Linked DNA regions of Homo sapiens. The protein of the gene in region 2 interacts with the protein of the main gene of each other region in a pairwise test. Each region holds a gene or a part of one and is shown on either strand. Other genes may lie near its edges. The genes, in order: ASAP2 and THSD7A.

Region 1 (3,918 bases), on a different chromosome or scaffold from region 2:
GCAATACCCAATTTTAAAACTGTAACCTGACATCCTGGCCCAGAGACATTTAATCACAGATTCACTATTGCCACACGTGTGACTTGTAAACCTATTCTGAGCCGAGCAGAGTGCTAAGCACTTCACACAGTCTCTGATCCTGGAAAGGATGCATTACTAATCCCGTTTGATGGGTAAGGAAAAGGAGGACTGCAGGTGAGGATGTGCCTCAAACCACAGCCAACGGTGGCCCCTGGACTCACAGACTCTGCCCCTTTCCCCACGGCTTTAATTTTCAACCAAGCTTCTTCGTTCCTACGTGTTCCTCTCCCCAGGACCTGGAGAGCGTACTGCTTAGCAGCTAGGCGTGATGACTTTGCACCTTGAGAGCACTTTACTAAAACCAGGCCTTTTCCAGGTTGAGGGGGAAGGGCGGCATTCCGGGTTCAAGCAGGTGAGACCCAGGTAACCGGGGAGCGGCTCCTGGAGGCTTCTTGGACCCAGAAGCGCCGACTCTCACACACCTTGCCCGCAGTTCCTTCTCCGGGCACGGGTGGAGCGCAGCCAGGCCGCCCTGGCTGAGGCGGGCACGCCTTCCCGGGCAGCCCGGGATGCCCCGGACCCGCGGACCCGAGGGTGGGGGCCCTGCGGCGCTCGGGGGCTGCGGCGGGGAGCTCGGAGCGCGGAGCTGCCCCCGCCGGTCCACTTCAAGAACAAGTTGATAAGGTCCGCACCGGGTACCAAAGACCCCGGGCGGCGGCGGGCGGCGGCGGGCAGCGGGATCCCCCGCTCGCCGCGGACCCCGACTCTGGACAAAGTTGGCCGCGCTGCGGGGAAAAGACCAGGCCGCGGAACCCCGCGAGGGCCACGAGGCCGAGAGAGGGGAGGTCTTAAAGAGGCCCAAGGTGGCCATCACCCATCTCCTCCGAGCCACCTAGGCGGGAACAAAGGGCTTCTGTCTCGGGCAGGGTTGGCCCGGCCGCGTCCGGCTTCGGAGCAAAGAAAGTTTTCTCGGGATGCGGATGCGGGAGCGGCGGGCGGGGCTGGGGCGCGGGATACCTGCGGCCGGAGCCGCCGCGCAGGCCGCCTCACCTCCTCGATGGCCGCCACAGTGTTCCGGCACTGCGCCGTGCGGGTGGTGAAGCTGGAGGCCGTGGGCGCCTTGTAGTCCTCATGGGTCTCGGCCACGAATTCCGACACGGAGATCTGGTCCGGCATCGCCTCGGCGCGAGGGCGCTGGCGCACAGCCGCAGGGGCGCCGCCGCCTCAACTGCCGCAGCAGGCTCCGACCGCCGCTCGGACACCGCCGCTGCCGCCGCCGCTCCGGCCCGCGGACAAAGGGGAGCGCCGGGCGCGGGAGCCGCGCGGGGCCTGGCGGCGGAGCAGGGGCGGCGCGCAGCCCCGCGCAGCTCGGCCGGTCCGCCCGCCTGCGCGCCGAGGGCTCCGAGTCCGCTGCCGCCGCGTCCTCTCAGAGCGAGCCCCGAGGCGGGCGCGCACAGCCGGCGGGAACTACCCGCCACCCAGCCGCGGGCCCCGACGCCTCCCGCGGAGAGGGGCGGGTCCGGGCCGGGGGCGGCGGCCGGCCGGGCGTGGGGCGGGGCGGCGGGAGGACCGGGCCGCCAATCGGCGCGCTCGCCGCTGCCGCGCCGCCGGGAAGCGGATCCCGCAGGAAGGAAGGCGGCGCGCGCCCCGGCCCGCCGAGCCGTTCCTGGCCGCCGCGCGCCGCATTGTCTCGGCGTTCCGGGCCCCGCGCGCCGCGCCCATGCCCCGCCCCCAGCCGGCCCGAGGCCCCGACTCCGACCCGCTGCCCGCGAGGGTGCGTGTGGAGGTGCGCCCCGCCGGAGTCCGGCCTTGTGCGCGCCAACCGCCCCCCGCCCACGGCGCGGAGCACCTCTGGGCTCCCCACTTGAACGGCGGGCCGCGCCGGCCCATGAGGAAAGCGGGGTGCGGAGCTCGCCCCCTGCCGGAGGATGCGCTCCGCCGGCGGGCACCCTGCGGGGACCACAGCCGGACGCCAGAAGTGACCTGACCGTGAATGTGCGCTTTGCGTGCAGTCATTGCATCGTCGCAGGCCTAGGAGACAGATGAAGAGATGGGTGCTTATTTTATATAGGGGACACAGTGTGCCCAAGAGCACAAGATAAACGGCCGGGTGGGGATTCAAACCCATGTTCCCTGACTCAAGTGTGAGTGCTTCAGAGCGGTGAGGGGCCCCTACTAAAAGTCCCAGTCGCGTTTCCTAGGCTGCCCAATGATAGGTATTCTCGGTTATAGTTTTAGGGTACTAGGCCAGGACCCACCCTGGGAAGGCTGCTGAACGCCCTGAAGTGGTATTCCCGCAGGCAGAGGAGGGAACCGAGGGGGTGCAGGAGGAGGAGGAGGGGGAGAACGTGCTACAGCAGCCAGCCAACCTCACACAAAACCGGGCCAGTAAAGGGTTCGAACTGGTACCGATTTTTATTTACAGCTCTTAAGGAAATTCTCGGTTATACTGAAAAATCCAGAAGCTCTGAAGATACCAGTCAAATAAAATCACACCCTATAACTCTACACCAGACTTGTGGCATGGTTTCTGTAGCTGCCAGCGGTAAAACCAAGAGAAACTTTACAAAAACCTTTTGTGCATCTGAAAAGGAGGAAGTGTGAGAGACACTGGAAATTCAATATGTCAGACAAAGCCGTCTCCTGACACTGCAGGACAGTAGACCAGTCAAACAATCTTTTTAAAGCCCCCATGTAAGAAGTTGCTATATGAGGTGGCAGCTTGGGTCAGACATTATGTATGGCCTTTGGTATTTTAGTAGCACTGCATGTAAAATTTAACTTTCTAAAATCGCTGTATTCGTGGATAGCTTTTATCATTGCACTAGACAACAAGTTACAATTTAAAAATTGTATCTGTTTCTTTTTATGTTTTTTGATCCTTTTGGTGTCTGAAGTTTTCCTCTATTTGCAACCTTCTACAATTCATGTTTTGTGTTTATTATTTATATTAATACATCCTCTCCAACACCAGGCAGATTCTGTTCCCGCCTACCTAGTTTCCCAGCTACAGTTTTTGACATGAGGGAATATGCTGAATAACTTTTCAAGTCTTGATTTGTAGAGGGCTGGTCTCTATGAGGCTATGAGGGATCTAAGAAAGAAAGTCGGGTTTTTCCTTGATGTCTAGTACAGCATTAACCAGACTAATCAATACTTCTACAAGGACAAAGTTAAGCTTGGTATTCTCTGTTCTCTCTTTATATACAACTCCGGTTCTTGTTTCTTTTAGTTTAATTTTGCAGATACAGGAAGCTTTAGTAGCCTCAAAAAAATAAAATTGCAAAGCTGTGTTGCATTGCAAGGCTGGTGGAAAACAACAATTAGTTACCAAGTTCATTGGTGGCCTAAAGAGGATACCAAATTGGTAGAATGCTAGAGCCATTTATTCCTCCATCATCCCTTAGAAATCTAACTTGCCTACTGCATAAGCCTAGAATTAAAGCAAGACCAGAGCAAAACATAGCTAATGCCTTTCTGAGATTAATATAAGAATGAGTAGCTTCCAATAAATAACAATAAAATTAAAGTTCAACATGGATCAAGGAAACACTCTACACATACTCATTTTTTTAAATGCATCAAGAGAAGAAGAGTATGCTGGTAATGTCCTTACAGGCCTATACTTCCTTAACCAGAATTACTAAAAATCCCTGAAAATGTAGCTTTACAAATAGTTCTTAATAGTAAAATTCATCTGAAATGAACTGATGTGAGGCTATGTGTGGTCTTGTTTATCCTACCTCATGTGAATATGTATGTTTTGCTGCAAAATATAAACATGGTTGATTATGAAGTATTGCCCCAGACCCTACTGGGGGTAATTAGGAATATGTTATTATATGCAATGTGTTACCTTTCTAAAATCCGAAAATTTCTGAATCCACACATATCTGG
Region 2 (3,918 bases):
AAGTTTGCATTTCTTGAACTTTCTAAATTGGAGTTGTTATACAACCCAGGAAAGGGCAATACAGTAGGTAAAAGGATTTAGGTATTCACTGGAAAAAAATTTTAATCCATATTTAAGAAGCAATTGGTGCAAATCAAAACACAGATACACATGATTAGAATGAAAATGATTTCCGTATTTATGTTTGTCAGCAATATAGTTATTTACAAATAACCCATATGAAAATGTAAAAAAGCATATTACATCTTCACATGCCATCTGTATTGACTGAATAAAGCTTAGTGACATTATTTGCAAATCTGTAGTTAATTGTACATAGACATTTTGTGCGTTAAAAAGGAAATGTACATAATGTAAAATAAATTACATTACGCAATTTACAAAGTAATATTAACAAAAATTCTTAGACAGCTGCCTCCTTATTTAAACAAAATAAATATTCAGGTAGTTAAATTAACATAAAATACACATTTAGGGAATAATAATTTATAGAAAGACAGATTGCAAATTTTAATAAAGTTATATTTTACAATGATAGATACTGATCTCTTCAAATCTGTGTGATAGAAATGGAGAAAAAAAGTACCAGAAAAGGAATCTAAATGTTTACTTTCTAAAAATAAACACAAACAGATTTCTGAAAAATAGGGAAAAGTTTACTTGAGGGTTAAAAGTAGGTAATCTAGAAACTATGGCTTAAAAACAATAAATCTACAAAACACAACAAGACTGACAATTATATTCTAAATAATATAGAGATTTTTGATCACTGAAAACATGACTCCCACAAACTAAAGCTCTTCATATACTGCCCATTTTTAAGATCTGACTTGGTAGAAACACAGAAAAATAAAAATGCAAAATTAACTGTTTAGCATTAGTTTCATTCATTTAATAATGTAGACATAACCATTTTTCATTGTCCCTGCTAGATATAAAATTATTATAACACACTGCAAACCATCCTTTTTATAAATGGATAACTATTTGCTTGGCTCACACACCAGTTTCTGATACCTGAAATCCTGTCCTGCAGCCAGGGCCACCTGAGGGCAGGACCTGGGGAGACCCTTATTCCCAGAACAAGCAGATGTAGTTCTCACAACTAAACTAGTCCCAGGAAAGATCACATTCTGACAAGATTCCTCACAGATTTGCTCAAGGACTACTGTTTTTTCAACACCCTCAATCTTACAGTGGAAATAGAAGAAGAACCCACACTTGAATTTGGTAATATATTTATAAACAGGAGATCCCAGATCATTTGGGAATTGTGCTTCTCATGTACTATTGAGACCCACGTCAGCTTTAGAACAGGCTCTCCCTTCTGTATGGTACTGAAAAGTACAGTCCTCCCTCACTGTCTTGTGGTGTGGAATGTGAACAAAGACTCGAGATGGAGGCAGGAGGATATGGGATGGTCTAAAGCAAGTGTAGGCATGGACATTTTTACAGAAAAGGGCTTTTTTTTTTTTTTTTTTCCTGCATGCCTTCCACATTTTTCCTTTTCCCTTTATTCATTTCTTTGACCAGTGGATTTGGTGTAAATCAGGATGTTCACACTCTGAGTGAGTGACACTTTGATTCTAATAGGGAAGGAAATATAGGAATTCTTTTTTTTTTAATTAAAAAATTGGGCATGTTTAGTGGGAAGTAGGTAAGAATAGCTGTCAAGAGTAGAAAGAGACCAAGCAGAGAAAATCAGAAAGGGCCAAGGATACAGGTTGTTGGGGGAGGTAAATAAGTGTGTGAGAGGTCTATTCAATTTCTGTGAGAAGGAAGACGTGAATTTACCTTGAAATGCCCAGGAACTTAACAGGGGTCTGATTAAGCTACAATGACCACTGCCACCTACCTGAGGGTGGGGCAGGGAAAAATCAAACTCCTAATACTGTGGCCTAAAGACATGTACATTACGTAGGGGAAAATACTAACCCCATCTAAAAACAAACCTAGAGTAAAAGTCAACATGTTTCAGTGCTATCTTCACTCATTAAGCATTTTTTCCTTCTTTTGGATGTCTGTCTTAAGTACCTATGTATACAAAAGCCATTACTTTTTTTTTTTTTTTTACAATGCCTAGCAGAATGTCTTATATGTCAATAAATATTTGCCTTGTTAGAAGTAATTTGTGCTTTGTTATAAGTAATTAAAAACAAGCTTTTATGCACTCTTTTTAAATTCACTTAAGCTACACCGTAGTATCCTCAAAAAAGGCTTTGAAATTAAGATTACTGTCCACATATTGGATTAGTTATTGATGAATAAGCAAATCAGCCCCTTTCAAAAGAGATCAGTTAGTCCTATTCTACGTGGTTTCTAGTGAAATAGTCCAGCAAAATCATATAATACTGTGTCAAACTTTTTCTGCTCTTCTTTTTTTAAAAACCAAACAACAGACCTTCATTCTAGGGAACAGCAGTTCTACATCTTTTACCCCCTCGGTGAGGTAAAAGTGTCAATAGAGAAGTTACTACTATATTCCCCTCCCAAATTTTTAGAAGGAACAGTAAAAATAAGGTTTTGATGAAATTCCAATAAAATATTTAACTCATTATTGTCTCATGTCAGAAACAAAAATAAGGCCATTTTCATGTTATAAACATGAATATAATAACCTTCCCTTTGTCCAAAATAGCCAGATTGCTACGTTCTCCTCTTTCCACCTTTCTAACGAGGTTATCCAGTATTTATTTATCCTAACAAACAGTGACCTTCCAATATGTTCTCTAATATTAGGTCATGTTGAACCTAATTTCCTCTCTCTCATATATATGGGTGTGTGTGTGTGTGTGTGTATATATATATATGCATGCATATATGCTGTAAAATCTAATTAATTTATGAATAAAATGTATTTTTCATAACATTCTATAATTTTGATTTGCTAATTTAATTCTTATAGGTAGGATGATACTAATCTTTTCTGAATTAATGACATTTTACAATACCTTAAATATAGCTTTAGTAGGTATTCTATCCCACATTTCAAAATTAATAGGTGTTGCACACATTTCATAAGAGGGTTAGCTGAATTTTTCAAGTAACCACAATAGAGTCTTTCTTAACTATTTTGGACAAATGGAGTTTATTTTATTCAAAGAGATCAACTTTAGGATTATCTGGAAGACCCCTGATTATATATATTGACAATCACAGTTTTAAAGTAACAATATTATTTTTTCTTCCTCTTTAATAAAACAGATAAAATGGACTTTGTTTTTATGGTTTTCTTTGTTTAAATCCTTGCTTTAAAGTAAAATTTTCATCTTCCTGACTACCTGTTCTCTTTGAAATGATTTACATTTCCTAATATAGTGAATATTGAATGAGGAATTAGCGCTTACTGCATTTAGTTCTTATTGAAATACATACAAATATTTTCATTTTGGGGACAATGACATCCTAACCTGATGTCTTTTGTAATCTTTGCAAATACTCTAATGAACAGCAGGGGGAGTTCATACTCCAGTATGAAGGTAAAAATACCTTCTAATCCAAAACACTTTTACAGGAACACAGCTGTTTAAGATAAAATAGCATGTTAGTTATATTATTTTTCAAATATCCTGAAAAGCTAGTGTCCTCTCTCACAAAGGTTGTTGCAATAATGTTGCCTGAAAATGGTATTGCTTTTTAATGGCACCTTTTGAGTTTTCTTTTCATTTGCAAGAAGTCTGCTGAGTTAGTTAAATATTGTTCCACTGTGCCATTCCCAGGGCTACATCTGTAGAAAATACAGCTACTTCTGATACAGTGGGAAATGTAATGACTGTAAATTCTCACCTTTGAAAAATGAATGAAAACGAAAGATGACACCATGGAGAGCTAGCATTAAAAAACATCCAGACCAGGGGTCAGCAAAATATGACCTGCAAAGGTGGCCTACTGGCTGTTTTTGTAAGGGAAGTTATATAG

What was found.
Region 1: the proteins of THSD7A (region 2) and ASAP2 interact in a two-hybrid assay, tested with the Homo sapiens proteins (one study listed by BioGRID and IntAct).

Annotation. Positions count from the first base shown.
Region 1 is NC_000002.12:9,204,384-9,208,301, reverse strand, and holds the start of ASAP2 (arf-GAP with SH3 domain, ANK repeat and PH domain-containing protein 2), read right to left. Parts: upstream 1,491-3,918; 5' UTR 1,198-1,490; coding exon 1,072-1,197; coding exon of another isoform or gene 1,039-1,071; intron 1-1,038. UniProt on the Homo sapiens protein: Activates the small GTPases ARF1, ARF5 and ARF6. Regulates the formation of post-Golgi vesicles and modulates constitutive secretion. Modulates phagocytosis mediated by Fc gamma receptor and ARF6. Modulates PXN recruitment to focal contacts and cell migration.
Region 2 is NC_000007.14:11,370,281-11,374,198, forward strand, and holds the end of THSD7A (thrombospondin type-1 domain-containing protein 7A precursor), read right to left. Parts: 3' UTR 85-3,918; downstream 1-84.